4 separate regions of the Homo sapiens genome follow, and all the other regions are linked to region 4. The links come from fine-mapping of genetic effects on gene expression. A gene starts in region 4. Each other region holds a variant in brackets. All regions are shown on one strand. Distances are between the middles of the regions.

Region 1 (8,100 bases), 30 kb before region 4:
TGCGGTGAGCCGAGATTGCACCACTGCACTCCAGCCTGGGCAACAACAGCAAAACTCCATCTCAAAAAAAAAAAAAAAGTTTAACTTCTTACACTTTTTTGTTAAAAACTAAGATACACTAGCCAGGCGCGGTGGCTCACGCCTGTAATCCCAACACTCTGGGAGGCCAAGGTGAGTGGATCACCTGAGGTCAGGAGTTCAAGACCAGCCTAGCTAACATGGCAAAACCCCACCTCTACTAAAAATAAAAAAACTAGCTGGGCGTGGTGGTGCACACCTGTAATCCCAGCTACTCAGGAGCTGAGGCAGGAGAATTGCTCCAACCAAGGAGGCAGAGGTTGCAGTGAGCCAAGATCGCACCACTGCACTCCAGCCTGGGAGACAGAGTGAGACTCCGTCTCAAAAAAAATAAAACTAAGACACACTGGCCGGGCATTGTGGCTCACGCCTGTAATCCCAGCACTTTGGGAGGCCAAGGCAGGAGGATGACTTCAGCCTGGCTTGGGCAACATAGCAAGACCTCATCTCTACAAAAAAAAAAATTAACTAAAACACAAACACACACATTAGCCAAGGCCCACACAGAGTCAGGATCATCCGTATCACCGTCTCCCACCTCCACATCTTGTCCCCTAGAAGATCTTCAGAGGCACTAACATGCATGGAGCCGTCATCTCCTATGGTAACAGTGTCTTCTAGACTCCTCCTGAAGGGCCTGCCTGAGACTGTTTTACAGTTAACTTTTTTTTAAATAAGTAGGAGTACACTCTACAATAATGGTAAAAAAGTATAGTACAGAATAGTAACTACATACACCAGTAACATAGGAGTTTATTATCATTATCAAGCATTAGGTACTGCACATAACTGTATGTGCTAGACTTTTAGACAACTGATAGCAGAGTAGGTTTGTTTACCTGAGCAGGACACATAATGCCTATTGCTAGAGCTTTAGCATGTCCTGGGCAATAGGAACTTTTCGGCTCCACTACAATCTTTTTTTTTCTTTTCTTGAGACGGCGTCTCGCTGTCACTCAGGCTGGAGTGCAGTGACACAATCTCGGCTCACTGCAACTTCCACTTCCCAGGTTCAAGCATTTCTCCTGCCTCAGCCTCCCAAGTAGCTGGGATTATAAGTGTGTGCCAACAGGCCCAGCTAATTTTTTGTATTTTTATTTTTGGTAGAGTCAGAGTTTCACCATGTTAGCCAGGCTGGTCTTGAATTCCTGACCTCAAGTGATCCGCCTGCCTCGGCCTCCCTCCCACAGCGATGGGATTACAAGCGTGAGCCACCGCACCTGGCCAGCTCCATTATAATCTTACTGGACCATCATCTTATATGTTGTCCATCACTGACAGAGACATCATTATGTGGCCTGTGACTATAATTCAAAATAGATCAAAGATCTAATTAAAAGAGCTAAAACTGTAAAACTCATAGAAGAAAACAGGCACAAATCTTCATAATCTTGAATTTCAAAAGTGTTTCTAAAATAGGACACAAAAGGCACAAGCAACAAAGAACAAAGGGATAAATTAGACTTTATCAAAATTAAAAATGTTTGTGCTTCAAAGGATACTATCAAGAAAGTGAAAACACAACCCACAAAATGGGAAAAAATATTTACAAGTCCTACATCTGCCTGGGTGCAGTGGCTCACACCTGTAATCCCGGCACTTTGGGAGGGTTCCAGTTTTTCCATATCATCGTCAACACTGGTGGTTTTGTTTTGTTTTGTTTGAGATAGGGTCTCACTCTGTCACCTACCCAGGCTGGAGTGCAGTGGTGCAATCACAGCTCACCGCAGCCTCGAACTCCCAGGCTCGTGATCCTCCCACCTCAGCCTCCTGAGTAGCTGGAACCACGGGTGTGCACATATTCATATTCATATGGCAGCGGGAAGATTGCTTGAGCCCAGGAGTTCAACCAGCCTGATCAACACAGTCTGCACAAAAAATTAAAAAACAAAAATTAGCCAGGTGTGGTGACATGTGCCTGTGGCCCTGGCTACTTGGGGGGCTGAATTGGGAGGATCACTTGGGTCCAGGAGGTCAAGGTTGCAGTGAGTTGTGATCACCCCACTGCACTCCAACATAGGCAACAGAGTGCAACTGTCTCAAAAAAAAAAAAAAAAAAAAGCGGGGGGTCCTATATCTGATAAGGGACTTCCCTCTATAATATATAAAGAACATCTGTAACTCATTAATAAAAAGACAACCCAATTTAAAATGGGCAAAGGATATAAACAGGCATTTCTACAAAGAAGACATACAAATGGCCAATAAGAACATGAAAAGACGTTCAACATCATTAGTCATCAGCAACATGCAAATCAAAACCACAATGAGATACTACTTCACACTCCCTAGTTTGGCTATAATTTTAAAAATGAACAACAGCTGGGCAAGGTACACCTGTAATTACACATCTGTAATCCCAGCACTTTGGGAGGCCAAGGTGAGCAGATCGCTTGAGCCCAGGAGTTTGAGAATAGCCTGGGCAACATGGTGAAACCCCATTCTAAAAAAAATGTTTAAATTAGCTGGCATTGTGGCCCACACCTGTGTAGTTCTAACTATTAAGGAGGCTAAGGCGGGAGGATCACTTGAGCCTGGGAGTTTGAGGCTGCAGTGAGCTGTGACTGCACCACTGCACTCCAGCCTGGGTGACAGGGTGAGACCCTGTCTCAAAAAAAAATAAATAAATAAAATAACAAGTGTTGGCGACGATATAAAAACTGGAACCCTCATTCACTGCTGGCAGGAATGTTAGATGGCACAGCCACCATAAAAACACAGTTCCTCAAAGGTTGTCCCACAATGAGACCACTGTAGCTTGACATGCAATTGTAAGAAGTAACACAGAGACTCCGTGTACACTTTGCCCAGAGCATTAATCTCCTGCAGTTACCTTAACAAAGTATCATAAATTGGTTAACTTAAAACAACCTAAATTTATTTTTATCTTTTCGCAGTTCTGGAGGCCAGAAGTGTGAAATCCGGCTGCTGGCAGGGCGTGGTCCCTCTGAAGGCTCCAGGAAAAGAGCACTTCCTTGCCTCTTCCAGCTCCGGTGGTGTAGGCCATCTTCTCACTCCCTGGTTCGCAACACTTGGCTCCCACCTCTGCCTCCGCTGCTGTGGCTTCTTCCCTGAGTCTGTGTCCTCTTATGGACACCAGTCACTAAATCTAGGGCCCACCCTAAATCTACGACGACTTCATCTCAAGATCCTTAATTAATTACATCTGCAAAGATCCTACGTCCAAATTAGGCCCCATTCTCAAGTCATGGGTGGATCTGAATTTGGGAGGACATTTTTGTTTGTTTGTTTGTTTGTTTGTTTGTTTGAGTCGGAGTCTCGCTCTGTTGCCCAGGCTGGAGTGCAATGGCGCGATCTCAGCTCACTGCCACCTCCGCCTCCCAGGTTCAAGCAATTCTCCTGCCTCGGCCTCCGCAGTATCTGGGATTACAGGCACCCGTCACCACATCCGACTAATTTTTATATTTTTAGTAAAGACAGGGTTTCCCCATGTTGACCAGGCTGGTCTCTTTGGCCAGGCTGGTCTCAAACTCCTGACCTCATGATCCACCCGCCTTGGCCTCACAAAGTGCTGGGATTACAGGCATGAGCCACTGCACCCAGCCGGGAGAACACTATTTCTGAAGTCACGGGTGGATCTGAATTTGGGAGAACACTATTTCTGAAGTCACAGGGGAATGTGAATTTGGGAAGACACTACTCAACCCACTGATGCCCAGTTTCCCCAGTGATGAAGCTCAAGCACGATACGACAACCAGGATCAGTCTCTGGCTTTTTGGGTGGCAAATGGATAAGATGGTACAGCTCATAAGCAGAAAAACTAGGAAGACCAGCTAAAGGGTGACTACTATAATCCAAGCAGGGCACTGTGGTGGCTTGGGCCCAACAGTGATGCCATGATAGGGAGAGAAGTCAGGGAAACGGGATGCACCCTGAGGATGAGGCTGATGGGATCTTCTGATGAACCAGCTGAATTTGAGAGGGGAAGGCAGGACTAAGAATGATTCCTTGTTGGCATTTTTACAGACATAAAGGATAAGTTTTTGCATTAACTTGGGAGAACTAACATGTTTATGATGTCCAAGAACAACAAATGTATTTCCAGAGTTCAAGTCTTCTGTTCCAAGTGCTCGAATGCCCTGGCTAGAGTGCAGTGTTGTGATCACAGTTCACTGCAACCTCAACCTCTTGATGACACTCCCGCCTCAGCCTCCCAAGTAGCTGGGACCACAGGCATGAGGCACCATGCCCAACTATTTTTTTTTTTTTTTTTTGGAGAGAAGGAGTCTCTCTATGTTGCCCAGGCTGGTCTGAAACTTCTGGGCCCAAGCAGTCCTCCCACCTCAGCCTCCCAAAGTACTGGGATTACAGGCGTGAACCACCACAACCCAGCTGGCTACTGACTTAATGTATCAATTTTATATCCAGTTCCTTTACTGAATTTCACTGTCTGTGTTTTAACATTGACTCTTTTGGGTTTTCCAGGTATAGTTCATTTCATCTAGGTGTTCAGATTTAATTGCTGAAGATTATACAATATGGTCTCTTACGATTTTGCTGTCCCAAACAGAATATTGCTTGAAGGGCTCTCACTGGCCATATTGGAATAATTTGAGTTTCAAAAGGACAAATGGTGAAAATAGATTTTAACACATTTAATAAGTACAAATTCATTACCTCAGGAGCCATTCTATAGTAATGCCAAAAAAATATGAAAGGGGAAAGAAAGCTCTTCCTTGAGAAAAGTGTCAACAAACAAATGGGGAAGGAAGGGCAGAGTGGTTTCCCAGCATACAGTCAATGCAAAGAGTACGAATGCTCTGAAGAAAAAGAAAGCAG[G/A]AGAGAGCGAGAGCAAGTGTCCACAGATGCGGCCGGGCGCGGTGGCTCACGTCTGTAATCCCAACACCTTGGGAGGCCGAGGCGGGTGGATTGCCTGAGCTCAGGAGTTCGAGACCAGCCTGGGCAACACGGTGAAACCCCGTCTCTACTAAAAATACAAAAAAATTAGCTGGGCATGGTGGCGCACGCGTGTAATGCCAGCTACTCGGAAGGCTGAGACAGGAGAATCACTGGAACCTGGGAGGCGGAGGTTTCAGTAAGCCAAGATTGCACCACTGCACTCCAGCCTGGGTGACAAAGCAAGACTCCATCTCAAAAAAAAAAAAAAAAAAGGCAAGAGCAGAGCCCAGAAGGCACAGGAAGTCTGCGTGCAGAGCAGCAACGCCTGGCAAAGACTGCTGCCCCTGAGCAGAGAGCACAGGGGCCACCAAAAAGCAGGGAGAAGAAGCTGGGACCCCATTACAGCCATGGAGTGCAGAAGCTGTGTCATAAAGGTAGAGCCGACAGCGTCTCCTGGGAAATGCCATTCTACAGATGGTGTCTAGCGCTGCGGGGCGAGAGGCAGACCAAGAGAGCTGCGTTTCATGCTGGGCAGAAGGTGCCTATCAGTTTTCCATGCAGTCAACATGGAGTCAACCTGGAGCCACAGCAAAGAGGTCAGCCTGGGGCACGAGCCTGGGGTCAACAGAGGACTGGATAGCTCAGGGAATAAGGACACACACAACACGAGGACCAGCCTGGGACTTCGGGCACGTCAATATTTAGAAGTCAGGCTTAAGAGGCGGGTCCTCCAAACAGGACTGGGAAGAAGGAGGCGGCAGGAAACCAGAAGAGTGCAGTGTTCTAGAAGCCAAACGGAGACAACTAATCCCAGGTTTTTTTTGCTTGAATTATGATAACAAATGCTGGTGAAAGAACCAGTAAGACGAAGGCTGAGAACTAACCAATGACAATGTCTAGGTCAATGGTGACCATAACCAAAAGGGCATCTGAGGAGTAGTGGAGACCAAAGCCTGCTGCAGCGGGCTCAGCCACGTGGGGACTGGAAACAGCACAGGCAGAAGGAAACCTGAGGGACTGGAATTTAAGGTACAGAAAGGTAAGGAAGAAGCTGAACATGAATAGCCGTGTTTTCAAAGACAGTAGGAGATAATGTTAAAGCTGAAAATCAGTTAAGACATCCAACGTTACAAGATTTGCGGCAGTGAGGGGATCAAACCCAGCCTCCAATTCGGCCAGAGCTCATGACAACACACGTGCCTTGCGAGATGTGAAAACAACAGAACTGCGCCACACCTCCCCCAGGCCACCCCAGCCCACATGCACGTGGGCCTCCCCCAGACCACCCCAGACCACCCCAGCCCACACGCTCGGGGGCCTCCCCCAGGCTCCAGGGTTGGGCAGCCAAGGCTGCTTTCCACCTGCTGACTAGCTCCTCTCTCCCACAAAACGGGAGCACTCCTCGGGGCTCCCATTCAGCCCTCTTACTTTCCAGCCCATTGTCCAGAGAATGAGTCCCTCGTCCTCTCCCCGTGGTCACAGGATTCTTGCCCGCAGCACAAACTTGAAATGTTCCTCAGGCCAGGTACCACTGTCCCACAGAAAGACAGGAAATGCCACAGACATCATTTTAAATTTCTAGCATCTACATTTAAAAAGTAAAAATAGGCCAGGCACAGTGGCTCACACCTATAATCCCAACACTTTGGGAGGCCGAGGCAGGCGGATCACCTGAGGCCAGGAGATCAAGACCAGCCTGGCCAACATGGAGAAATCCCATCCCTATTTAAAATACAAAAAGTTAGCTGGGTGTGGTGGTGGGCACCTGTCATCCCAGCTACGCGGGAGGCTGAGGCAGGAGAACTGCTTGAATCCGGGAGACAGAGGCTGCAGTGAGCTGAGATCACACCATTGCACTCCAGCCTGGGCAACAGAGCAAGACTCTGTCTCAAAAAAAAAAGTAAAAATAGAAGTAACTAATTTTAATAAATTGCCTTTAACTCAGTATAGATCCAAAACATTATCAACATGTAACCAATATAAAATAATTAGTACCAAAAGAGTGTGAACTATCGTACTAAGCCTCTGAAATCTAGTGTGCATTTCACATAGCACATCTCAGTTCGATATGGCCATGTTTCAAGGGTCTGAGGCCCACGTGGGGCTGCAGCCACGTTTCTGGAGATCACAGCCACCTCTCCACTCAGCGCTGCAAGTACAAAAGCCAACCCTTCTCTAAGATTCCATTTGGAATCGAGTGAAAAAGACACTTGTGTATCAGTCTGCAGCAGAGATGGAAACACAGACAGCCTTCCTTTAACCACCTACAGGAGGCCCCTCTTCGCTGCTTCTATCACACCCTGTTTATCTCTTTTAATAGCAATTACCAAAGTGTGTAATTGTTTGTCTTTCTCAAAACTAGGACACAAGGGCTTCTGTAAGTACAAGGCAGACGCCATGTGCATTCTCATGTGGCTCCCAGTGCAGAAGCTGGCACACGAAGGCAGTAAGTACTTGTTACAAAAATCAACAAATTAAGGAACACATGAATGGATAAATGGTTCCTGTCTACACTGAGAAGTCAGTTAATTCCAAAAATATTCACCCTGGGCCACAAAAACATATGTAAATCAATAAAGGCGCAAGCCAATTCCGGCCCTTTCTCCTTTTGTATCAGGTTACACAACAATCTATCAAGGCCCTGAAGTGTGCCAGGCAACATTCAGTGGGTTGGGGAACTAATACAGCTAAATAAGCAGGCCGTGGCGGCTCACGCCTGTAATCCCAGCACTTCGGGAGGCCGAGGCAGGCGGATCATTTGAGGCCAGGAGCTCGAGAGCAGCCTGGCCAACATGGCGAAACCCCGTCTCTACTAAAAATACAAAAATTAGCCGGGCGTGGTGACACACACCTGTAATCCCAGCTTCTTGGGAGGCTGAGGCAGGAGGATCACTTGAACCTGGGAGGTGGAGACTGCAGTGAGCTGAGATCGCACCACTGCACTCCAGCCTGGGCAACAGAGGGAGACTGTCTCTTAAAAAAAATAATAATAAATAAATAAATAAATAGAGCCCTAACCTCAAAGAGTTTACAATCTAGCAATTGAGACAACCAAAAGACCAATAATTAAAACACAAAATAAATGTTACATCAAAAGACAAGGTGCTTTGGAAACAATGACTAGATCTCAATCAGGGGCCAGCAAACTACAGACTGCCACC
Region 2 (8,088 bases), 190 kb before region 4:
CGAAGAAAAAAGCAGAACAGAAACCGAGTGGCCTGGTCTCCAGCATCTTCATCCACAAACGGCCAGCCCCCGGCATGGGCTTCACTGTTCCCTTGACTTCTAAAAGAGAAAACTAAAAGCGAACTCCGTGTGTAGGCCTCAGTGGATTTCCTGAAGAGCCTCTGCTGCTCTTGGGCTCCTCCACCCCTCTGCTCTTTGTTTCTGGCTTCCCTCCTCCATACATTTCAGAGCTCCTTGAACAAAAGGCTGCTTGCTTAGGGGCCTCTTTTCTTTTTCCTTTATCAGAATGATTTATGATTTTATAACCAGAATTACATTTTTTATTTTTTTTTAGAGGCGGAGTCTCACTCCGTCACCCAGGCTGGAATGCAGTTGGCACGATCTTGGTTCACTGCAACCTCTGCCTCTGGGGTTCAAGCGATTCTCGTGCCTTAGCCTCCCCAGTAGCTGGGATAACAGGCTCATGCTACCAGGCCCAGCTCATCATTTTGTATTTTTAGTAGAGTCGGGGTTTCACCATGTTGCCCAGGCTGGTCTCAAACTCCTGACCTCAAGTGATCTGCCACCACGCGCCCCCCCCACCCCCCGCCCAGAATTACATTTTTGAGAGCTTCCAGTTCACATAAGATCCTTCCACTCTGGGACTGTTCAAACGCCCAGCCTTTCTGAAGTTGGCTGAGTTACGACAAGCCTGGCCTACAACTGGTGAGCAACCGCACTCCTGAAACAATGGGGTGATACAGACCAGAACAGGTTTACCTTCCCACCTAAAAGAACCAGAAGAGTAAAACAAAACAGTCAAAACCTATGACCATGGTTGTCAAGACACCAGACACCAGGCAGGGAAGGACCGTGCCCCTGAGAGGCGAGTCTGTGAGGGAGCCCGTGGCTGCCCAGCTCACTGCCACCAGAGCTCCAACCATGGCGCAGGGGGTAGGCAGGCAGGGCCCCCGGATGCTCAGACAGAAAACAGAGCTCCAAGAGAGGTTCCAGAGATCTGTGCACTTCCGGCAGGAAGTGGGTCATCCGGCAGGACACTAGCGGCCACAAGCCTGTTGAGAATGTGCACTCAAAGCCGGGGCCTTTCCCCACAACCAGGCAGGCCACACTCTCCATCTACAGGCTGTGGGCTGGAGGACAATGGACGGACCTGCCTCGGTGGCTCCAGACCCACCTAACAAACCTGAAAAGCAAAATCCAACATGATCTGACTGCTTTCAAGTGACTGAGTTCCAGAACAAAGTTCAAGAACATTCACACGAAGAAGAGTCCTTAGCACCATACAAGTTTTGCAAAACCCACCCACATCCTGGCATCGGCTACAGGTTACCAGATGTGCAAAGGAACAGGAAACATGACCCACAATGGGGAGAAAAACCCAGTCAATCAAAAAGCCCGGCTTTGACACAGATGCTGGATTAGCAAACAAGGTCATTAAAGCCATTGGTGGGCTGGGTGAGGTGGCTCACACTTGTAATCCCAGCACTTTGGGAGACCTTGGCGGGGGAATCACTTGAGGTCAGGAGTTCGAGACCAGCCTGGGCAACGTGGTGAAACCCCGCCTCTACTAAAAATACAAAACTTAGCCAGGCGTGGTCGTGCGCGCCTGTAATTCCAGTTACTCGGGAGGCTGAGGCAGGAGAATGGCTTGAACCTGGGAGGCGGAGGTTACAATGGGCCAAGATTGCACCACTGCACTCCAGCCTGGGCAAAAGAGTGAAACTCTGCCTTAAAATAAACAAATAAATAAATAAATAAATAAATAAATAAATAAATAAGTAAATAAAGCCATTGGTATAACTGTATTCTATAGGTTCGAAAGTTAAGTAGAAACATGTTAGGAAATGTTTGAAAGACTCCAACAGAACTTTTAGAGCTGAAAACGACAATGCCTAGAATGTAAGCACACAGACCGGATGAGCTCAACAGCATCACGTGCAGAAGAAAAGATGAGTGGACTAGAAGACAAACCAACAAAAACCTGCTCAACTGAAACACAGAGGGAAAAAATAATAATTTAAAAATTGAAAAGAGCACCAGTGAGCTGTGGAACCACTCTGAGAACTCCTACATACACAGCTGGAATACTGGAAAGCGTGGTGGGCAGAAAACATTATTTGAAGAAATAATGACTGAAAAATTTCCAAATTTGTCAAAAACCCTAAATCCACAGATCCAAGAAGCTCAATGAACCCTACGTGCACACACACAAAATAACACCAAAGCACTTCAGTAATCAAATTGCTTTACAGACAAACTAAGGCTTAGAGGAAAATCCAATTGCTAAAACCAAGAGATACAGAAAAAACATTTTAAAAGCAGCCATATAAAAAAGACACATTATACACAGAGAAATAACTGTGTGGTGGCACTGGATTTCTCACTGCAAACACTGCAGGTGAGGACCCAGGGAAACCGCCATTTAAAGCATTGGAAGAAATAACTACGCATCCAGAATTCTAAGAATATCTTTCAAAGATGAAAGCAAAATAAGGACTTTCCAGGCATTAAAGAGCTGTAAGAGGGCTGGGCACAGGGGCTTACGCCTGTAATCCCAGCACTTTGGGAGTCCGAGGCGGGCGGATCATGAGGTCAGGAGTTTGAGACCAGCCTGGCCAACATGGTGAAACCCATCTCTACTAAAAACACAAAAATTTCCCGGGCGTGGTGGCCAGCGCCTATAATCCCAGGTACTCAGGAGGCTGAGGCAGGAGAATCGCCTGAAACCTGGAAGAAGGCGGTTGCAGTGAGCCAAGATAGCACCACTGCACTCCAGCCTGGGTGAAAGAGCAAAACTCCATTTCAAAAAAAAAAAGCTGCAAGAGCTCATCACAAGCAGACCAACACCACAGAAAAGGTAAAGGGAGTGAGGCCAGCGGAAGGGAAGCAACATCAGGAGCATGAGCCCACCAAGGTGGAGAAGCGTGGCAGGGACAGGGATGGGGATGGCAGGAGCAACTGCAGAGCTCTTCTGCAGTCTTTCAAACAGACCACTCGGCTGGGCGTGGTGGCTCATTTCTGCAATCCCAGCACTGTGGGAGGCCAAAGCGGGCAGATCACCTGAGGTTGGGAGTTTGAAACCAGCCTAGCCAACATGGTGAAACCCCCATCCCTAATAAAAATACAAAAATTAGCCAGGCGTGGTGCCATGTGCCTGTAATCCCAGCTACTTGGGAGGCTGAGGCAGGAGAATCGCTTGAACCAGGGAGGTGGAGGTTGCAGTGAGCTATCGCACCACTGCACTCCAGCCTGGGTGACAGGGTGAGACTGTCTCCAAAAAAAAAAAGAAAAAACCAGGCCGGGCACAGTCGCTCACACCTGTAATCCCAGCACTATGGGAGGCCAAGGTGAGTGGATCACGAGGTCAGGAGTTTGAGACCAGCCTGACCAAGATGGTGAAACCCCGTCTCTACTAAAAATACAAAAATTAGCCAGGCGTGGTGGCTCGTGCCTGTAATCCCAGCTACTCAGGAGGCTGAGGCATGAGAATAGCTCGAACCCGGGAGGCGGAGGTTACAGTGAGCCAAGATCATGCCACTGCATTCCAGCCTGGGCGACGGAGCAAGACTCCATCTTAAAAAAAAAAAAAAAGACCACTGACTGTTTAAACAGAATAACTACATGGCTATTATGGTGTTCAGAACATATATATGTGTAAAATATAGGAGAATAGCAGTATCAAGTTTGGGAGGAGAAAAATGATTTTGCAAGACCTACTGTAAAGCTACATCAGTCAAGAAAGGACAGTACTTGCCTAAAGGCAGATATGCAGATCAATGCATCAAAAGAGAGGGCCCTGGAGCTGACACACACATCTGGACGACTGACTTTACACACATGTGGACAACTGACTCTGACATGTGGACGACTGGCTCACACATGCGGATGACTGATACATACGCAGACAACTGACATGGATGACCAACTCATACATGTGGACGACAGACTCACAGACATGCAGATGACTGACTCATACATGCAGATGACTGACCCTTACATGTAGACAACTGACACACATGTGGACTGACACATGGACGACTGACAGACATGCAGATGACTCACACGTGGACGACTCACACGTGGACGAATGACACATGCAGATGATGGACTCACACATGCGGATGAGAGACACACACATGCAGATGACTGACTCACACATGCAGACTCTCACATGTGGACGACTGACAGACATGTGGACTGACACATGTGGACGACTGACAGACATGCAGATGACTGACTCACACATGGACAACTGACACATGTGGACACACATGCAGATGACTGACACACATGGACGGACTCATACATGGATGACTGACAGACATGCAAATGACTGACACATGTGGAATAACACATGGGTAACTGACTCACAAATGCAGACAACTGGCTTTTGGCAATGGTACAGAGTCAATTCTATGTAGAAAGAATGGTTTTCTCAACAAATGGCACTGAACTAGGCATCCATAAGCCAAAAAAAAAAAGTTCAATCCATACCTCACACCACATACAAAAGTCAACTATAATAAAACACAGACCTAAATGTAAACCCCCAAACCATAAAACTCGTATAAGAAAATGTGGGAGAATATCTTTGGGTTCTCAGATTAGGCAGTGATTTCTTAAACAGAACGCCAAAAACAGGATCCAGTTAAAAATAAAGAAAAACGTTGATAAACCAAACTTTATAAAAACTTTTAAAATTCTGCACTTCCAAAGACAGATCTGTAAACCATATATCTGATAAAGGACTTATATCCAGAACATGAACTCTTAAAACTCCAGAATACCCAATAATAAGCAAGAAAAATATTTGAACAGACACTTCATTAAAAAAGATATATGGATCGTAAAT[G/A]AGCCCATAAAAAGATGCTTAACATCAACTGTCATTAGAGAAATGAAATGAACTGAAAACTAAAACCACAAGATATCACTACACACCTATTAAAATGGATAAAAGTTAAAGACTGACCATGCTAAGTGTTGGGAAGGATGCGGAGGAACCAGGACTGTCTGATATGGGTTGGCTCTGTGTCCCCACCCAAATCTTGTCTTGAATTGTAATCCCCATGTGTCAAGGGAGGGACCTGATTGGATTATGGGGGTGGGTCTCCCATGCTGTTCTCATGTGAGTGAGTTCTCACAAGAGCTGGTTTTAAAGTGTGGTACAATGCTCCTCAATCTCTCCTGCCACCATGTAAGACGTGCTTTGCTTCTCCTTCACCTTCTGCCATGATTGTTAAGTTTCCCGAGGACCCCCCAGCCACGCTGAAGGGTGAGTCAATTAAACCTCTTTTGTTTATAAATTACAGTCTTAGGTAGAACCCTGATAGCAGTGTGAGAACGGATGAATGCACTCTCATACACTAGAGATGGTACAATCACTTGGAAAGCAGTTTGGCAGGTTTTTTTTTTTTTTTTTAATTTTTGAGACAGGCTGGGGTGCAGTGGTGCGATCTCAGCTTACTGCAGCCTTGACCTCCTGGGCTCAAGCGATCTTCCCACCTTAGCCTCCCGAGTACCTGGGACCACAGGTGTGTGTCACCATGCCTGGCTACTGGCAGTCTCTGAAAATGTTAAGCCTAGACACCTGTCATATGTTCTAACCATTCTACTCCCAGGGGTTTAATCAAGAAAAATGAAGGCATGAGTATTCACAGCATCTCTCTTAGTAACCACCAAAAATCAGAAACAACCTAATGTCCACTGATAGGTGAAGGGTAAACAGACACATTCACACAATGGGCACTTCAGGCAACGAAAATGGGGATCTCGGCTTAAGGACGCGAGGGAAAGCTGCCCATGGTGAGAGCCCTTTTCTATAAAACCGAGACACGCAGACAACAGAAAGCCCAGCAATGGGTGGCAGGGGTGGGCTGGGCATGGCTGTGAAGCGCGGAGGATCACCTGAAGATCATCAGGGCATGAGGGAGGACTGGGCTCACTCTTCCGACAGCAACAATGGCTTCTGGGTGAAAATTCACCCAAGTGTGTACTTTGAATATATGCAGCCTACCTATTATACAGCAATAAAGTGGTTAAATTAATGAAGTGTTTCATTGTATAAATAACAAACTTGAAATTTAATCAATGCTTCCATTCTGGGGGAACAGCCACCAGCATCAGAGAGCTAACAGCTCTGACACCTGGACAGGCTGCAAACTGCCCAGGCATGCAGGCCGACCAGCCACACTAGGGCCGCCTTCCCCGCCACGCAGTCTCCGGGGGCGGTGGGTGAGGTGGCCCCACCTGGGGGTGGCCTCTGCCTTGTTCTCTGCCTTTGCTTCCCTCCTCTCTTCCTCCAAGGTACCCGCCACAGCCTTCCACCAGCTCAGGGCTCCTCTGCTTCCCTCTTCTCTTCCTTCTGCCGGCTCAGGGCTCCTCTCTTCATGGTGCCGTCATCCTAACCCGCAGTGGGAAAGAACTCCGGTGGAATGAGGTAGAAACCCCCTGGATACAGTCATGGAAGCCCTGCAGCCCACGGAGGAGGCACTGCAGCTCAGGACCAGTCACTCCAGAGAGGCCTGCGTGCCTGCAGGGAGGCAGCGGGTGCCCACAGCCAGTGGTCCCTGTTTCTAGGTGGGAGGTGGGGTCTGCTTACATGCAGCGAGGGGTTCCAAATGCAGACCTCCCCGTGCCAACAATGAATGGCAAGGGCCCGTGCCCACGCCGTTCTCAAGCTCTGAGAGGAAGTGTCAGCCCTCCCTCCTCAGACACCAGACTTCAGCACATTGGAGATTTAATAGTGTGCTTTTAGAAATCTTCTTTTTCTGTGTCAAATCTTCTTTCTTATTATCAATTTAGTGGGTTTATTTGTGGCTGGACTTCCCATTTCTGGCCTCTGGAACCCTCTGTGAAGGCAGACACAGCTCTGTGGGCTACAGCACCTCCCATTTCTGGCCTCTGGAACCCTCTGTGAAGGTGGACACACCTCTGAGGGCTGCAGCACCTCCCATTTCTGGCTTCTGAACCCTCTGTGACGGTGGACACAGCTCTGTGGGCTGCAGTGTGTCTATGCCCGTCTTGGGAGGTGACCAGAGTACCCCCTCGCCCCTTGCTGTCGTGCCCAGTGCCACACCCAGCCCCCTGGCAGGCCCACTGGTTTTGTGGGTCCCTGAAGATCTTCTAGTGAACACCCTTTTGAGTTAATCAGTCACCTGCTGCCACTCTCAGGCTGGGGAGTCCTCCTATCTCAGCTCCAAACTCTATTTTCTGAGCAAACAAATGGGCCTTACAAAACTAATTGTCACTGAAGCATCTTAAATCACATCCTAGAAAACCGTGGTATGATAATGTTCACTTTTCTTTCCTTTGTTTCAAAGAGAGAGCCAGGGGCCAGGCGTGGTGGCTCATGCCTGTAATCCTTTGGGAGGATGAGGTGGGCAGATCACCTGAGGTCAGGAGTTCAAGACCAGCCTGGCCAACATGGCTAAACCCTGTCTCTACTAAAACTACAAAAATTGGCCGGGCGCAGTGGCTCACACCTGTAATCCCAGCTCTATGGAAGGCTGAGGCGGGCAGATCACCTGAGGTCGGGGTTCAAGACCAGTCTGGCCAACACGGTAAAACCCCGTCTCTACTAAAAATACAAAAATTAGCCAGGTGTGGTCGTGGGCGCCTATAATCCCAACTACTCCAGAGGCTGAGGCAGGAGAATCACTTAAACCCGGGAGGTGGAGGTTGCAGTGAGCTGAGATCACACCACTGCACTCCAGCCTGGGTGACAGAGCGAGACTCTGTCTCAGAAACAAACAAATAAAAAATACAAAAATTAGCCAGACACGGTGGCACACACCTGTAATCCCAGCTACTGGGGAGGCGGAGGCATGAGAATCACTTGAACCCAGGAGGCAGAGGTTGCAGTGAGCCAAGATTACGCCACTGCACTCTAGCCTGGGCGACAGAGCGAGACTCCATCCATAAAAGAAACAAAAACAAAAACAAAGGGAGAGCCAGAGGTGCTGTGGCACCCGCACCAGGGTCAGTAGCCTCAGGCCCAGGCACAGCCCCGTGAGGCAGCAGGAGGGAGACCAGGGCAGTGCAGCGCCCTCTGAACCCGCAGATCCCTAGAGGGTGGCCTCTGCTGGGACC
Region 3 (8,100 bases), 93 kb before region 4:
GGTCAGAAAAAGGGCTTATACTTGGAGCACATCCGTGGTCTGCTCTCCACTCCCTACAGAGGCTCACTCTCCGATGACAACCCCAGGAAATCATATCCAGGGCAGTCAAGGAGACACTATTTTACATCACGAGATTGACACACACACTCAGCTCAGGACAGGCTGAGGCAGGAAGCCTGCGATGGCATCGCTAGGTGCACACGGAGCTCAGTCAAGCCTGAGATGCCACCGCCCAGTGCCCTCCTTCCTGGCTCTGTTCTTCCTGGTGCTTATCACCTCGAGCACAACAGACCTGATCATCTGTCATGCTGGCCGTCTGTCCTTCCACCCGAGGACGTTAAGTCCTATGAGCGCAAATGCCCTGTCTGTTTACCAGTGTACCCTGAGCACATGAACGAGGCCTGGCATCTAATGTGTGTGTTCTGAATAAACAACTATGTTTTAAAAACCCTTAACAAAACAGAGTAAGTGGAAACTTCCTCATACCAAATCCTGCAGCAGATGTATATGTAAATGCTAAATTAATTGCATATAAGATCTATTAACACTACCAGTGTCTGACATAAAAAGGCAGTGCAGGTGACACCAAAGGGAAAGAACAATGTGAGGGTCAAACTGTTCCCACCTGCATCTGACACAATCATTTACTTAAAAACAGACTCAATTAGCAACTAAAACACAAGAGTACAACCAGACTGCTGAATTTGAAATCATGTTACAAAATCAAAGACATTTATTTATATCAACATTACCTAGAAAATGTAAGAAAAAAAAGTATCATTCACAGAAGTAGGGAAAACTACAAAGGGTATTAGGAAATTTGCCAAGATTACTCAAAGCCAATGTGTTGAAAAAAAAGTTAAATAGAAGGCATTTCATGCTCCTAAATGGATGACATTACAAAGCTGTCAAGTCCCCTCAAATTGAATCTATAAGCTGGGTGTGGTGGCTCATGCCTGTAATCCCAGCACTTTGGGAGGCCAAGGAGGCATGATCGCTTGAACCCAGGAGTTCACGACCCACCTGGGCAACATAGTGAGACTCTGTACCAAAAATTAAAAAATTAGCCGGGCATGGAGGTGCACACTTGTAGTCCCAGATACTCAGGAGGCTGTGGCAGGAGGGTCGCTTGAGCCCAGGAGGTCAAGGCTTCAGTGAGCTATGATTGCACCACTGCACTCCAGCCTGGGTGACAGGTCTCATTAAAAAAAAAAAAAAAAAAAAAAATGAGCAAACTGAATCCAGCTCCGCACCCCCCAACAACAAAACAAAATTGGTGAGGAGGATTAAACCATGAACAAGTGGAATTTAACCCCAGAAATGCAAGGTTGGCTTAATAGCTAAAAATGAATTAATATGCCAAATATCAATAGAACAAAATAAAGGACAAAACCACACAAGCATCTCATTAGACAGGAAAAAATGAACACCCCTTCATGGTCAAAACACTTAGCAAATGGTTTGCTAAGAAAAGAAAACTTCCTCAATCTAACATAGGGCATCTATGAAAAACTACAGCTAACATCACACTTAAAGGTGAAACCCGGGAAGCTCTCTCCCTAAGATCAGAAACCAGACAAGGATGTCCAGTCTTGCCACTTCTATTCAACCCTGTACTAGAGATTCGAAGTAGGGCCATAAGGAAGAAACAGAAATAAAAAGAATGCAGATTGGAATGGAAGAAACCAAATGAGCCCTAAAGATGACACAAGCTTTTATGCAGAAATTCCCAAGGAAGTTTAAATCATTAGAACTAATAAACGAGTTTAGCAAGGTTATAGGATATAAGATAAATATGCAAAAATCAATTTTTTTTAACTTTTTTTATTTTTTGAGATGGAGTCTCGCTGTGTCACCCAGGCTGGAGTGCAATGGCATGATCTCTGCCCACTGCAAGCTCTGCCTCCCGGGTTCAAGTGATTCTCCTGCCTCAGCCTCATGAGTAGCTGGGATTATAGGTGCGAGCCACCACATCCCGCTAATTTTTGTATTTTTAGTAGAGATGGGGTTTCACCACGTTGGCCAGGCTGCTCTTGAACTCCTGACCTCAAGTGATCTGCCCACCTTGGCCTCCCAAAGTGCTGGGATTACAGGCATGAGCCAGTGTGCCCAGCCAATCACTTGTATTTCTATACAGTATCAATGATCAAAATGAAAAAGAATTTTTAAAACAATTCTATTTAAAATAGCATCAAAAAATATAATACTTAGGGGCCAGGCACAGTGGTTCACGCCTGTAATCCCAGCACTTTGGGAGGCCAAGGCGGGTGGATCATGAGGTCAGGAGATGGAGACCATCCTGGCTAAGATGGTGAAACCCCGTCTCTACTAAAAATACAAAAAAAATTAGCCGGGCATGGTGGCAGGTGCCTGTATTCCCAGCTACTCGTGAGGCTGAGGCAGAAGAATGGCGTGAACCCGGGAAGCGGAGCTTGCAGTGAGCCGAGATCGTGCCACTGCACTCCAGCCCGGGTGACAGAGCAAGACTCCATCTCAAAAAAAAAAAAAAAAAAAAAAAATTAGCATGGTGTGGTGGCTCACACCTGTGGTCCCAGCTACTTGGGAGGCTGAGGTGGTAGGATTGCCTGAGCCCAGGGAGATGGAGGCTAGAGTAAGCCATGATCACACTCCAGCCTGGATTACAGAGGGAGACCCTGTCTAAAGAAAAGAAAATCTTACAATAAACCCTCACATTTAAAGCCAACTGATTTTCAACGAGGGTGCAAGAACAATTCAATGAGGGAAGAAAGGTCTTTTTCATAAATGTTGCTGGGACAACTGATTATCAACTTGCAAAATAATAAACTGGGACCCCTACTTCAAACCATATACAAAAATTAACTCAAAATTGATCGAAAACCTAAATAAAAGAGATAAAACTATAAAACTCCAAGAAAAAATAAATGTAAATGTTTGTGACCTTCTATTAAGTAATGGTAAGTTCTTAGGTTTTAGACCAAAAGCACCAGCAACTAAAAGGAGGAAAAAAACAGGTAAGTCGGACTTCATCAAAATTGAAAACATTTATACTTCAAAGGACACCATCAAGAAAGGGGAAAGACAAGCCACAGACCGGAAGAAAATATTTGCAAATCCCA[T/C]GGCTGATAAGGGACTTCTGCTTATATAAAGAACACTGAAAACTCAACAATAAAAATCAATCCAATTTGAAATCACAGGAGAAGAGATATTTCTCCAAAGAAGCTCTAAAGATGGCCAGTAAGCACACGAAATGATGCTCAACATCACTGGCCGTCAGGAAAATGCAAACCAAAACCACAATGAGATGCCACTTCCCACCCGCCAGGACAGCCACAGACACTAAGAAATGGTGGCGAGGACGTGGAGAACCTGGAGCCCTCTGCAACTGCTGCAGGGAAAGCAAGATGGGGCAGCCACCGTGGGGGTCCAGCAGTTCCCCCAGGGTGGAGAGGCCGTGGCTCAGCGGCAGTGTGTAAGGGAACAGGGCACAGGCAAAGCCTAAAGCGTAATGGAATAACCTGGGGCTTGTGGCATCTGGTGTCACGTAGGAAACAAGTTCCACTAGGAAGGTCAAAGGAGGGGTGACCAGGGAGAGAAGGGGGAAGAGCCGGAGGGCACTGGAGCCAACAGAAGAAACAGTTCAAAGACACAGAAAGGACGGCAACAGGAAGGGGCCAAAGTACAGGAAGAAAACACCCAGTCAGGCTGCAGGAGGTGGATGGCGCAGGAGGTGGGGGCAACCCTGGAGGGCCGGCTAGGGGTAGCGGCAGAGGCGGGCAGCGGTCACCACAGTGCACAGCCAGTGGGTGGACGAGAACCCACAGGCACAGCGAGGCCATCTAGGGTGAAAGGAGAACACGGCAGGGGCCACAGCCCACAGTCCATGAGGAGCCAGGCCTTGCGCGCTGTCTGGAGAGGAGCAGGCTCCAGCTGGGAGAGCCTTAGGCAAGTCCAGTGTCTGAGCTGCTCCCACGGCCGCCACCCTTATGGGTCCAGCCAGAACACCACTCTCCCTTCACTGTGGAGCACAGCACAGCTCGTCTGGCGCCACCTGCCCTCATTTCCTGGGGGCGCTCTTGGTGGTGCAGGCTCTCCAAGAACATCCGAACCCTATGTGTGCGCCACGCCTTACAGAGGGGTGCAGCCCCGCCGACTCCCCTCGCCCCAACTCCCCTCACCCTGCCTCTCTGCAGACACTTGCTTCCACACCACTCCCTCCACCTCCTGGTAACCACTGCTGTTCTCCAAGTGTCTGCCATAAAATTGGAGTCATGCAGCTTGTGGCCCTTTGGGTCTGGCCTCCTTCACTTAACAAACCGTACAAAAGCTTCATCCATGGCGCGGCGTCAGTCATGCTGTGTGCTCTTCTGGGCTGCTGACCGCTGTCCCACTGTGTGGATGTACCACGATCTGTTTATCCAGTTCCTTATCAACTGAGGACACCGGAGTGTCTCCGGTTTTCGGCGACGTGACAATGCTGCTATAAACATTTGTGTGGCCACTCACTTTTAATTTTCTGGGTGTACTTTAAGACAAGGATATACAGGATTTTTGCTTTTCATACTTTGACAAATGTGTTCCTTCTCTGGCAGAGCTTTTGTGTTTGTCTGTGCAACTGTGCTATTTAGGAATGGGATAGATTAGAAACTATACCATAAACCTAGGTGAAGCAAAGAAAGTCAGAAGACGGGGACTAATAAGAGAGGAAGAGCAGCAGGTTTTCTAGTCTGGAGGGAGGCGCTGCTCCTGTCCCTCGGTGCACACCGCCCTCACCTTCTCCCAGCAGCTCGGTTTTCACACAGCAATCCTGCTGAGGCTCCCCCCTCGCCGGAACTGCCTGTTAGAGAGAAACAACAGCCGTCAGCCGGGTTCAGTGGGAGGCCGCTTTTCCAAATGGACATCATTTGGAAAAAGTCAAAAAATCGTAGTTACAACATTCACCATGAGCTGCTGGACAGTCAGATTTACTCCTGCCAGCTGGTTACAGTCGCCTCCAGCAGAAGAACTGGCATTCAGAACACAGTCCAAGGAAACTTCTCCTGTATTTCTATTTTTGAAGACAGTTTCTTAACAATAAGAACGCATTCATGTATCATTTATATAATTAGATATCTGAAATCTTTGGGCTCTGTTACAGGAGTGTTACAATTTATTTCAAAATGCATTCTACTGCTGACAATAATTCATATATTTCAAATGTCCAACCTCCTACAAAAAATTATAGAAATAGATAAATCAAGAAAATTCAATAAGGAACTTAAATCACTAAATCTTTGAGATTAAGCATCTATAGAGGTATGTATTATACAAGGCCTCTTACAATTTTTTTGTTGAGACAGAGTTCACTCTCTCGCCCAGGCTGGAGTACAGTGGCGCGATCTCGGCTCACTGCAACCTCTGCTTCCACAGTTCAAGCGATTCTCAGGCCTCACCCACCTGAGTAGCTGGGACTACAGGTGCACACCACCACACCCAGATGCTTTTTGTGTTTTCAGTAGAGATGGGGGTTTCGCCATGTTGGCCAGGCTGGTCTCAAACTCCTGGCCTCAAGTGATCCGCCCGCCTCAGCCTCCCAAAGTGCTGGGATTAGAGGTGTGAGCCACTGCACTTGGGTGGCACTTGGACAGAATTTTTTTTTTTTTTTTTACACAAAAATCCTTGCCTTCAAGAAGCTTAGAGTCTGGTTGGAGAAGTGAACATAAACACATAAAACACTCCTAGCCAGGCCTCTCCCGACGCAGCAGCAGGACCATGGAGTCCATAAGGAGGCAGCAGGGAGTCTGCAAATGCCCCACCCACAGCTGGGGGCCGGGGAAGAGGGCTGCTGACCACTCTGGGCAGTTGGAGATGCCAGACTGCAAGTGGGAGCTGTCAGGCTGACACCCACACCTGGTGATGTGATACTGGAGAAAGCCCTCTGGTGAGGCCACTGGAAGCTGGAAGTGGGCAGGAAGCCTCCGGGTCAGAGTGATAAAATAGGAACAACTGAGGGAGGCACACTTGGTGCTCCGAGTCCACAACCAGAAGAGGAGAGGCACAGACTTGCCCGAGGTCACTAGGAGCAGCCAGTCAGACAGCTGCAGGAGGCCAGCCACGCACTGATTCCATCTTTAATTGACTATCAACAGGTAAGAAGAGGCTGCAAAAACCCGGGTGTCCAGCGTCTGGATGAGAAAACATGTCAACAATGGGGCCTCTCAACAGAACCCCTCCTCCCCACAAAGCAGACGCCAGGCCAGCCCCTACCTGAGCCCGGATGTGCCTACTGCTTTCCAGGGCTCACATCCATATGGTCTCGCTGCCTTCTGGGCTGACTTGGTAACACCGGACCTAACTGCATCACCCTCCCCAGGAGCTGGTCTTAGCAACTGTGCACAGCCCACCCCACCACGGTAAGGCAGGGGGGCCCAGGTTTCCACCTCCCACCCCCTGATCTCCCACTGCCAAGCCAGGGCCAGCAGCCCAGCTGCTCATGGCCAGCCCTCGAACATGCAGAGCACGCTACCTTTCCTGGTCCATCACAGCTGTACGCCAGCCAGCTCAGCCTGCACCCTTCACACCTACCCCCCAACAGGAGCTCTCCGGGGTCCCTGCAATCCTTCCAGGAGTCCAGGAGGTCAAAACTATTTTCATGGTAATACTAGGACCTCAATTGCCTTTTTCACTGTGCTGATATTTGCACAGACGGTGCCCAAGCGGTGGTGTCAGCCCCTTTGCATCGACCAGGTCAGGACACCGAAGTGTACTCCAGCAACTGAACTCTTGACCAGCAGGCACTTGGGGGGCTCGCCTGAGAGTGCCCTGGATGAGGCAGTGAGATGATGGCCTGTGAGCACAGCTCTCCAGCGTTCCACATCAGAGGAAGGGGGCAGGCAGCAGGCCAGGCACAGTGGCTGCGTGGAACCCGAAGCTTTCCTCACTCACAGAGCATCTTCACTTAAAAGAACAACTGGCAAAATGTATGCCACTCAGACCTGAACATACCACTCAGGCCTGGACATGCCACTCAGACCTGGACATGCCACTCAGGCCTGGACATGCCACTCAGTCAGACCTGGACATCTGGCAGACATTTCCACAGAACAGAGTGAGCCTCAAAGAAAACAACCAGTAGTATTTGTTGCCAATGTTAAAACTCTACCTTTTGAATTTTCGAAACACATGTAAATGTGTATCTGTCCCCATGAGCTTGAAAGTTTCTCCATATTTATGACTTTTCTTATTACATGAGCGGTATCATTAGTGACTATGATTTTTGATACCATATAATAAAATGTGTCAACATGGGGAAGATCTTCCTAACAAGGTGAGCTGACACTCCCCAAATGCCCAGTGCCTAATATTCAAAATCACGCATGGGACAAAGATGCATCCAAGATGGGCTTTAATGTCACAGAGGAAGAAGGTCATTGGCACAGTTTCACCTTGTTGAGTTTTCGTGTCATATCAAAGCAGAATAGCTGCAATTATCTGAAAAGATATCAAAATACTTCCCCCTTGCCAACCACATGTCTATGGGAGACCAGATTTTCTTCAGACAGTATCACCTCAGGCTGGGTGCAGAAGCCAATCTGCAAATCCAGCTGACTCTTCGATTAGCCAGACATGACAGAGATGGACCAACATGGAAAACAATGCCATTCAACTGAGTTTTTTTCATTCAGAAAAAGTACTTTTCACAGAAACTGCTGTATTCCCTAACATGTAAATAAAATGTTACATGTTTACTTTTATTATTTTTTAAAAATGTGATTTTTAACTTTTCAGTTTTCATTTCTTTTACAGTAACTATCATTAGATACAACCCAATAAACAAGAGCCCTCTGGGGTCCTCAATACTTTTAAGAGCAGGGCCTTGAGGCACACCAAAGACACCCTGCCTGCCACGGCACAGCTCTGCCGACAAGGTCTCCTGGCCTGAGATGAGCCGGGGTGGAGCATGGCAGGGCAGACCTTGTGAGGCTGCCGGGGTCTACAGGCATTTTTGGGCACCAGCTGTGCCCCTCACATGCTGTCCCCTCCTGGAGGCACCCGCCAAACCCCACTCCATCTCACAGTCCTCATCACCACCACCAGCCACAAATCCTACCCACGAAATTAAGTTTTGTAATCTTTTGAAAA
Region 4 (8,100 bases):
CGCCTGGCTGTATTTTTTTTTTTTTTTTTTTGAGACAGGATTTTGCTCTGTCACCCAGGCTGCAGGGCAGTGGCACAATCACAGCTCACTGCAGCCTTGGCCTCCTGGGATCAAGCGATCCTCCCACCTCAGCCCCTCAAGTAGCTGGGACTACAGGCACATACCACCACCACACCCAGCTAACTTTTTTACTTCTAGTAGAGACAAGGTCTCACTCTGTTGCCCAGGCTAGTCTCAAACTCCTGGGCTCAGGGGATCCTCTCATCTCGGCCTCCCAGGCATGAGCTGCTGGCCCTGGCCAAGAACATACATTCTGATTGGGGCAGGATGAACATAAGAGAACAAAAATCTTCTCTAATCTAAATCTTACACTAATTCACCATTAATGGAAGTCCATAGTCGACCCCTAAAGTTGGTGAATAAAGACATGACAATACAAACATATATTTAGAAACATGAAGTAAATGCTCAAGAGATGCAAGTGGGCTGCTTCTTCTCTAGAAAGACAGAAGATGATCGGCCGGGGGCGGTGGCTCACGCCTGTAATCCTAGCACTTTAGGAGGCCAAGGCAGATAGATCACTTGAGGTCAGGAGTTCGAGACAAGCCTGGCCAACATGGTGAAACCCCCATCTCTACTGAAAACACAAAAATTAGCCAGGTGTGGTGGCAGGCGCCTGTAATCCCAGCTACCAGGAAAGCTGAGGCACAAGAATCACTTGAATCCGGGAGGCGGAGGCTGCAGTGAGCCAAGATCGGGCCACTGCACTCCAGCCTGGGCAATAGATCAAGACTCATTCTCAAAAAGAAAAAAAAGGGGGGAGGGGGGAGGGATAGCATTAGGAGATATACCTAATGCTAAATGACGAGTTAATGGGTGCAGCACACCAACATGGCACATGTATACATATGTAACAAACCTGCACGTTGTGCACATGTACCCTAAAACTTAAAGTATAATAATAATAAAAGAAAAAAATAAAAAGAAAAAAAAAAGAAAGACAGGAGATGAGAACAGCTTTTTTTTTTAAGGGTTTTAGCACTGATTTTTTAAATTATGCGCACGTGCCTGCATTATTTTAAAAAAGAAAAAATAAAGAAGCGATACATAGTAGCCACCCTGCTACTTGCCTGAGAAAGCCTTCCTGCTGGAAGGTGACGTTTTGCTGAGACAAAAGCCTTGAGTCAAAGGAACCCTAGGATCTGATCCTCAGTGACCCTGGACATATTTAAACCCTAAGATGCCCCATTTACTAACTAATCCACAAATGGGGAATGGAGGATATATTCAACTACCTCAGTAGTTTTTTTTCTTTTTTTTTTCCTGAGACAGTCTCTCACTCCGTTGCCCAGGCTGCAATTACAGGCACACACCACTATGCCCAGATAATTTTTGTATTTTCAGTAGAGACAGGGTTTCAACCATGTTGGCCAGACTGGTCTCGAACTCCTGACCTCAAGTGATCCGCCCACCTCGGCTTCCTAAACTGCTAGGATTACAGGCATGAGCCACCACGGCTGGCCAGTTCTTTTTGGTAGGAAAATGTATTGACTATCTTTGTAAATCAAGGAAAAGAAATGAAGTTAGATAAGTTTCCAGTGTCAGCTTTATTACTTTAATCATTTGGCAATTAATGAACCCTGACCCAGGAATCATTTCCCAGGTTTAGTGACAACAGTGATCACATGCCTACCTACTGTCCAGAAGGCCAGAGTTGCTGCGCTACACACAGGGGCTCCCTCACCTTCTCATACACCTTGATGATAAACCCTTAGAATTATCAATCTAAAAACAGAGCTTTTATTAACCTAAAATGACCATCACAGATATAACACATTTAGCAAGCATCAGCTCTATGGCCAAACCACCTGCAACTCCATCTTCTTGGCCACAAGCTCTTCAATCTTGGGCCTCACTGCGCCTGTCTTCTCATTTATAAACGGGGAGGTAACAGTACCTACCTCTTAAGGTTGCTGCTAGGCTCAAATTATTGAATTCATGCAAGGCACTGGCACTATGGCAGGGTTGGACACAAGTCAGGGCTCAGTCAACACAGGCTGTCATTCTCATCAGGTGTGTAAAGCCCTATTCAAGGCTGCCTATGGAACCAGAGACATCTGGAGCCATTTGCTCATCGGTCATGTATTAAACACCTACTACGTGCCCAACACTGTACTAGTGCTGGTCCTACAACCGACTGGCCAAGTTATCTAACCCTTCCTCCTCAGCTAAACAGGAAACAACAGGACGGGCACAATGGCTCATGTCTGTAATCCTAGCACTTAGGGAGGCGGAGGCAGGCAGATCGCTGGAGTCCAAAAGTTCAAGACCAGCCTGGGCAACATGGTGAAACCCCGGTCTCTACCAAAAAAATACAAAAAAATTGGCCAGGTGTGGCAGCACCCGAGGTGGGAGACTCCTTTGAGCCTGGGTGGTCGAAGCTGCAGTGAGCAGTGATCATGCCTCTGCATTCCAGCCTGAGTGACAAAGGGAGATCCTGTCTCAAAAAATAATAATAATAAATAATAATTTAAAAAAGGAAATAACAGCACCTGCTGCACAGGGTGAAGAAAACCGAGGGAGGCGCCTGATCTAAAGGTCTTGCACAGTGTGTGGGATCCAGTGGGTACTTCATAAATGATAGAATTCATCACTACACGTCTTCTCCCCTACAAGCCTAGAAGTGACTTGAAATTTTCTAATTTCGCTTTTTGTTCTCAGTGACTAATATTAATTCCTTGAATGCTGCAGATACTCAGCAAAAACTCCTTGCATTGAATTTAAGAATTCCCCTGCACCTTCCCAGTTTACTTATTTCAACACCCCCCAAAAATGCAGGAAAAAAATAAACAAAAAGGCCATACATTACCTGAGTTAAAATACAGTGTTAAGTCTATGCACCAGGATACTGTACGGCTTCTTACTACACCTTAACTTTCTAAGCTTTAGAAGTCTCAACTGTTACTAGACAGTTAATTTCAAAGAAATACTTCTACGCTGACAGTTTTCTCCAAACCGGTCCCTTATCTCAGCCCTAGGACCACACTATTTCTGCATCTCCACGGACACACCACCTCCTGCTTGCTTTTCCTTCAGAGGGACGCCAGTGGTCCACTCGCAAGACTTTAATCTCTACGCTGCTTCCTTTCCTAAGCAAGGAAACAAACTATCCTTGAGAATGAGCACGGGGAAGGCCGAGACCATTAACAAAAGAATGTGAACTTTTTACATCGAGAGCCCTTTAAAGCTGCTGGTTTGGAAATAAACTTGAGTCCGCAAGCTTCCCACCGAGCGTGCTTTCCTGCTTCTGACAGCCAGCAGGGCTGGAGCAGCATTGTCTGGGGAGAAACACGCCGGGACTGGCCAACTTTTCGTTAAAGATGGTGCCATCCTACTCAGAACAAAGTGAAAGGTCAACGAAGCGAAGGAAGAGCTCCGAGAGGAGGGACAGCCTCGCCTCGGCCGGCGCTCCAAAGTTGGCCGGCCCCGCTACTTTTCCTTTTGTCCTCCGCACCTCCCCGGCACCCTGGCCGAGGCCCTCCCCGCAGATCCGGCTTGCGGGCGGCGGCGGCGGCACGGGGTCCGTGGGGGGCGCGGGCACAGGTACGCGGTCGCCTCCCTCACCTGCGCCCCCGCCCGCTCCCCCAGCCGCCGCCCGGCCCGCGCCGCGCACAAAGCGCGCCCGGCGGGAGCGCGGGCCGGACGCCCGGCGGCCTCGGCCCGGCCTCGGCCTGAGGCGGCGGCAGCGGCGGCGGCGGCGGCGGGGGGACCCGGGGCCCCGCCCGCCCGCCGGCCGCCTGCCGCCGCCCCGCCCGGTTCTTCGCCCCCGCGCCGCCTCCGCCGCTGCCCGCCGCCCCCGCGCCGCCCCCCGCCGGCCCCGCTGCTCACCTCGGCATCGGCGGCGGCCATGGCCCGGGCCCGCAGCGTGGCCCCGCCCCTCCCGCGCGCCATCGCCCCGCCCGCGCCTCGCGGCCCAGAGTCGGGGCGGGGCCGATCGCCTACGTCTGCGCCTGCGCCTGCGCCCGCGCCTGCGCGTTGGAGCTCGACCGGTGCGGCGCCTGCGCACTGGAACCAGGCGTGCGGCGCCCCAGGCGCCGGGCCTGCGGCGGCCGGAACCGGAACGCGCGCCCGCGGGGTAGGAGACCTGGAGCTGGAGAACCCGCCCGCCAGAGTCGTAGTAGTGGATGGGGAGTAGCCGTCCCATTTTCAACACATGTCTCATTCTAAATTGACGTTTTGGTGGGCTGGCCGAAGAAGGAGAAAGACCCGCGGCTCCGACCTCTGACCTCTAACCCCGGACGCACTTTGATTTCGCCGGCTTGCGCGGAAGGCTGACTCCCTGGGCCGCGGCCTGGCGCGGGAGCCGCCTGTGGGGTGTCCCCGGCGCGGGAGGGTGCTCTGGTTCAGGCAGGTTCCCGTTGCGGCGGGGTTCCCTCGGTTGGGAGGAATGCCCCTGCCGAGGGTATGCTCCGGCTGGAGGGGGTGTCCCTAACGGCGGGAATACCTGGACTGGCTGGGGTGTCCCACTGGGGAGGGTTTCCCGGTGGGGAGGTGTCTGGCGGGGGAGCGGCTCCGGCTAAGCATGGGTGTTCTGCTAGGAGGATGTGTCTGGCTGGGGGCGGTGTCCCAATCGGGAGGGTTGCCCTGATGGGGGAGGTTCTACAGTTGTGGAGATGCCAACCTGGGGGGCGCTCCGGTTGGGGGGTGTGCCCTCTCTGGTTACCCCGCTCTCGCTGCCACTCATAGGCCCGCTGCCCAGGTATGCACAAGTCAAGGCCTTTTCTGCAGACCAAGTAGCCTTCCCTGGAGAGCGCCCCCAGCACCACGGAAACTACCTACATGCCCCGCGGTGGTCAGCCCGCCTTATCCCAGCCCCGAGACCCAAAACAAGAAGCATGGACTGAATTTGAGGTTTCTGGATGGTCGTGTGAACCGAGGGGACGGGTACTGGACTGACAAGAAATGAGCCTTGAAGGTCAATCTGGGTGACACCCGAGTCTCCTGGTGAGTCGGACTCCGGAGAATTATCTCAAGTCCAGCATAGACAGCGCACATAGACAGAAAAGGAAACGGACAATCCCAAGTGCCAAGGGAACCTTCCCAGGTTTCTTTAGGGCAGCTAAACTGCTCTGTCAAAGCCTAAGTCCATTTATGACAGGCCGAGCACCCTGAGCCCTCGCAGGAGACACGAGCGCCTTCATGGCCCTCCTGCCCCGCACCCACCTCTCCGCCACCCCTGCTGTCTGTCCCTTCCCTGAAACCTTTATTTCGAGTGTCTTTGTGGCTTCCCTCTTTACCATCCTTGAGTTGAAATATCACCTCTTAAGGGAAGCCTTCCCTCTCCTCCCTAGTTAAAATGATACTGCCCCCCCATACCTGTCTTCGTTGACTTACTTGGCTCCATCACAGTGTGTGTCATGTGACTCTCCCACATCCTGATTTGGAATATTGTCTCCCTACTAGAATGTAAGTCCATGGTGCCTAGAACAATACCTGGTGTACAGGAGACAAAATATTTGTTGACTGGGCCGGGTGCGGTGGCTCACGCCTGTAATCCCAGCACTTTGGGAGGCCGAGGTGGGCAGATCATGAGGTCAGGAGATGGAGACCAGCCTGGCTAACATGGTGAAACCCCATCTCTACTAAAAATACAAAAAATAGCCGGGAGTGGTGCTGGGCGCCTGTAGTCCCAGCTACTCGGGAGGCTGAGGCAGGAGAATGGCATGAACCCGGGAGGCAGAGCTTGCAATGAGCTGAGATTGTGCCACTGCACTCCAGCCTGGGCAACAGAGCAAGACTCTGTCTCAACAACAACAACAAAAAAATTGTTGACTGAATAAAGGGAGTTAGAATGTGAAGAAAAATCCTTCACCAAGCAAACATCCACCCTAAGTGAAGGTGTGGGAAGCAGCTGCAGGCAGCTTTTTCACTCCATTTTTCCATCAGCTGCTACCCTTGTGTGCCCCTCAGCACTTATGTCAAGATGCTGCTCTCAGCACGTGACATGCTAACACTGCAGACTTCAGGTCAGTCCTGAGAGGCAGGCACTGTTCTTACCCACATTTTATAAGTGACTGAACTGAAGCAAGGGAGTGGTGAGAGGCAGTGATGGGATTCAGCCCAGGAGGCCTTCCTTTCAACCATATACTGCACTGCTTCCAGGAGGCGCTTCACAGATGACCCCACCTGTGGTACACTTTCTGCTGTTCTCCAATATTCATGCTGCCTGTCCCACAATTAGTAAAATTTTAGCCAAGTACAGGACTGCCTGGCTAAAGACCACATTTCCAACAGGAAGGGGACAGGTCAGAGACAAAAAGTGACAATCCATTTCCCAGTCTGTCCCTCAAAAGTCCCACCATTAGGCTGGGCAGTGGTGAAAGCTGTCAACAGCCATCTGGGAGCCAGGGATGGGAACCACTATGTAGGAATGACAACTCTGCCACAAGGCCAGGATCTGCCCCCTCTGGACTGTTCAAGAAATAAACTGTCATGCTATGAGGGTGGGGGGCTGTACCCTACAGTCCCACGAGTTTTTTGTGGGGTTTTGTTTTTTTATTTTTTGAGGCAGTCTTGCTCTGTCACCCAGGCCGGAGTACAGTGGCACAATCTCAGATCACTGTAACCTCTGCCACCTGGGTTCAAGCGATTCTCCTGCCTCAGCCTCCTGAGTAATTGGGATTACAAGCATGTGCCATGATGCCCAGCTATTTTTTTTTTTTTTTTTTTTTTGTACAGATGGAGTTTCACTATGTTGCCCAGGCTGATCTGGAACTCCTGACCTCAAGCAATCCACCTGCCTCAGCCTCCCAAAGTACTGGGATTACAGGAGGGAGCCACCGTGCCCGGCCTGGTCCTGTGCATTTTATAGATAAGGTAACTGACAAACCTAGCCACAGTCACCCCTTCGCCCTAAAGGAGAACTGGAATTTGAACCCAGAGCCTTCTTCACCACCATCTCCGTTGTTTCTGGAAGCACCCTCCAGGCAGGCCAGCCAGCATCACGGGGCCTCCCCTGGGGCTGGAACGTCTGCAGGATGCCCCTTTGAGAAATGCTGTTCCACAGAACCCTGCCTTTCAGGCCTTGGAGACGTGGGCAGGGGAGAAGCAGCGTCCCTCAGAGCCAGGCCTGGCAGTGGTGCTAGCAGGGGCCAAGGCCCAGGGAGCAGGGTCTCCTGTCGGAGGGACCTGGGCAAGCCCCTCCACGCGCCAGCGGGTTTCTCAGCAGGGGAGGTCCACACCACACCGCTTGGGAACCTGGGTGCCTAAACGCAACAGGAGCCAAGGCACAAATTTAACCAAACACCAAGGTTGCGTGAGGCCCCATTTCATGAGCCGGGCTCCAAGGACGTGTCCTTAGGCGGCTCTGGAAGGCCCAGCGCCAGCCCCCGTCCTCTGTTAAAGGGAGCCAGCCCCGCGGCTCCGCCCAGGCATGGTAGCCTGAGCGCGCCCCCAGGGTAGTAGGGGGCACCTGAGGAGCAGGGTCTGCCCTGGCATGAGCAGAGCCCAGGATGGGGTCAGGGTCAGGCCCTGCCAGAGGCTGGAGGGTGCCCAAGGCGAGGCCGGTGAGGCCCAGCTCTACAAATAAAGTGTTTTATTTACAGGAGTTGTCTCTCCAGGTCCCAGCTCCCTGCCACCCCCACCCCAGCCCCAGGGAGAAGAGGGCGGATGCCAGAGGAGCTGGCAGAGGCTGGGCAGGTCCTGAGTGGGCCAGGCTAGGCCAAGAGAGAAGGCACGAGGCCCTGGGCGCCCCAGTCCCAGGGCAGAGGCCAGGCCTGCCTGGAGAAGGCAGCACGGGGTCAGCTCTCAGGGGTCAGGCTGGGTTCCACGCCGCCGCAGCTCTGCTCATAAGACGGTGGGGCCTCTGCGGGAAGAAAGCAGGGTCTGCGTGGGGCTCTTGGCGTCCCCTCCCTGCCAAGCCCTGGCTGTCGACTCACCATAGGGGTAGCCCCAAGAACTGTACTCTGGAGGAAGAATCAAGGTGCTGGTAGTGGGCACTGGCCCCCCGGAGCCCTCTGCAAAGTAGGGGACAGTGGCACCTGTTGAAATGCACAAGGGAGGGTGCAGCGGGTGTGAGGCAGGGCTGCCATCCTGAGGGCA

What was found.
Region 1: its variant is fine-mapped to the expression of EHMT1 in whole blood (TOPMed, PIP above 0.99).
Region 2: its variant is fine-mapped to the expression of EHMT1 in whole blood (TOPMed, PIP above 0.99).
Region 3: its variant is fine-mapped to the expression of EHMT1 in whole blood (TOPMed, PIP above 0.99).

The regions. Positions count from the first base shown.
Region 1 is chr9:137,644,706-137,652,805 of GRCh38, reverse strand. All of the region lies in intron 1 of EHMT1 (euchromatic histone lysine methyltransferase 1), which reads right to left. Among named protein-coding and RNA genes, the nearest start is that of EHMT1, 30 kb to the right of the region's middle. RefSeq lists an enhancer at 5,433-5,502. The variant G/A (reference allele first, on the strand shown) is at 4,880.
Region 2 is chr9:137,801,169-137,809,256 of GRCh38, reverse strand. All of the region lies in intron 18 of EHMT1 (euchromatic histone lysine methyltransferase 1), which reads right to left. Among named protein-coding and RNA genes, the nearest start is that of MIR602, 33 kb to the left of the region's middle. RefSeq lists an enhancer at 107-186. The variant G/A (reference allele first, on the strand shown) is at 4,853.
Region 3 is chr9:137,707,683-137,715,782 of GRCh38, reverse strand. It overlaps EHMT1 (euchromatic histone lysine methyltransferase 1), which reads right to left. Exons shown (of 27, transcript NM_024757.5): 2 at 4,753-4,816. Among named protein-coding and RNA genes, the nearest start is that of EHMT1, 93 kb to the right of the region's middle. RefSeq lists a silencer at 105-164 and an enhancer at 6,325-7,286. The variant T/C (reference allele first, on the strand shown) is at 3,099.
Region 4 is chr9:137,614,838-137,622,937 of GRCh38, reverse strand. It overlaps EHMT1 (euchromatic histone lysine methyltransferase 1), which reads right to left and starts at 3,933. Exons shown (of 27, transcript NM_024757.5): 1 at 3,889-3,933. The coding sequence starts at 3,909. It overlaps ARRDC1 (arrestin domain containing 1), which reads right to left. Exons shown (of 8, transcript NM_152285.4): 7 at 7,938-8,100; 8 at 7,578-7,864. The coding sequence ends at 7,800. It overlaps ARRDC1-AS1 (ARRDC1 antisense RNA 1), which reads left to right and starts at 4,043. Exons shown (of 3, transcript NR_122035.1): 1 at 4,043-4,407; 2 at 4,747-5,004; 3 at 6,739-7,606. RefSeq lists enhancers at 2,807-3,525, 4,191-4,240 and a silencer at 3,851-4,150.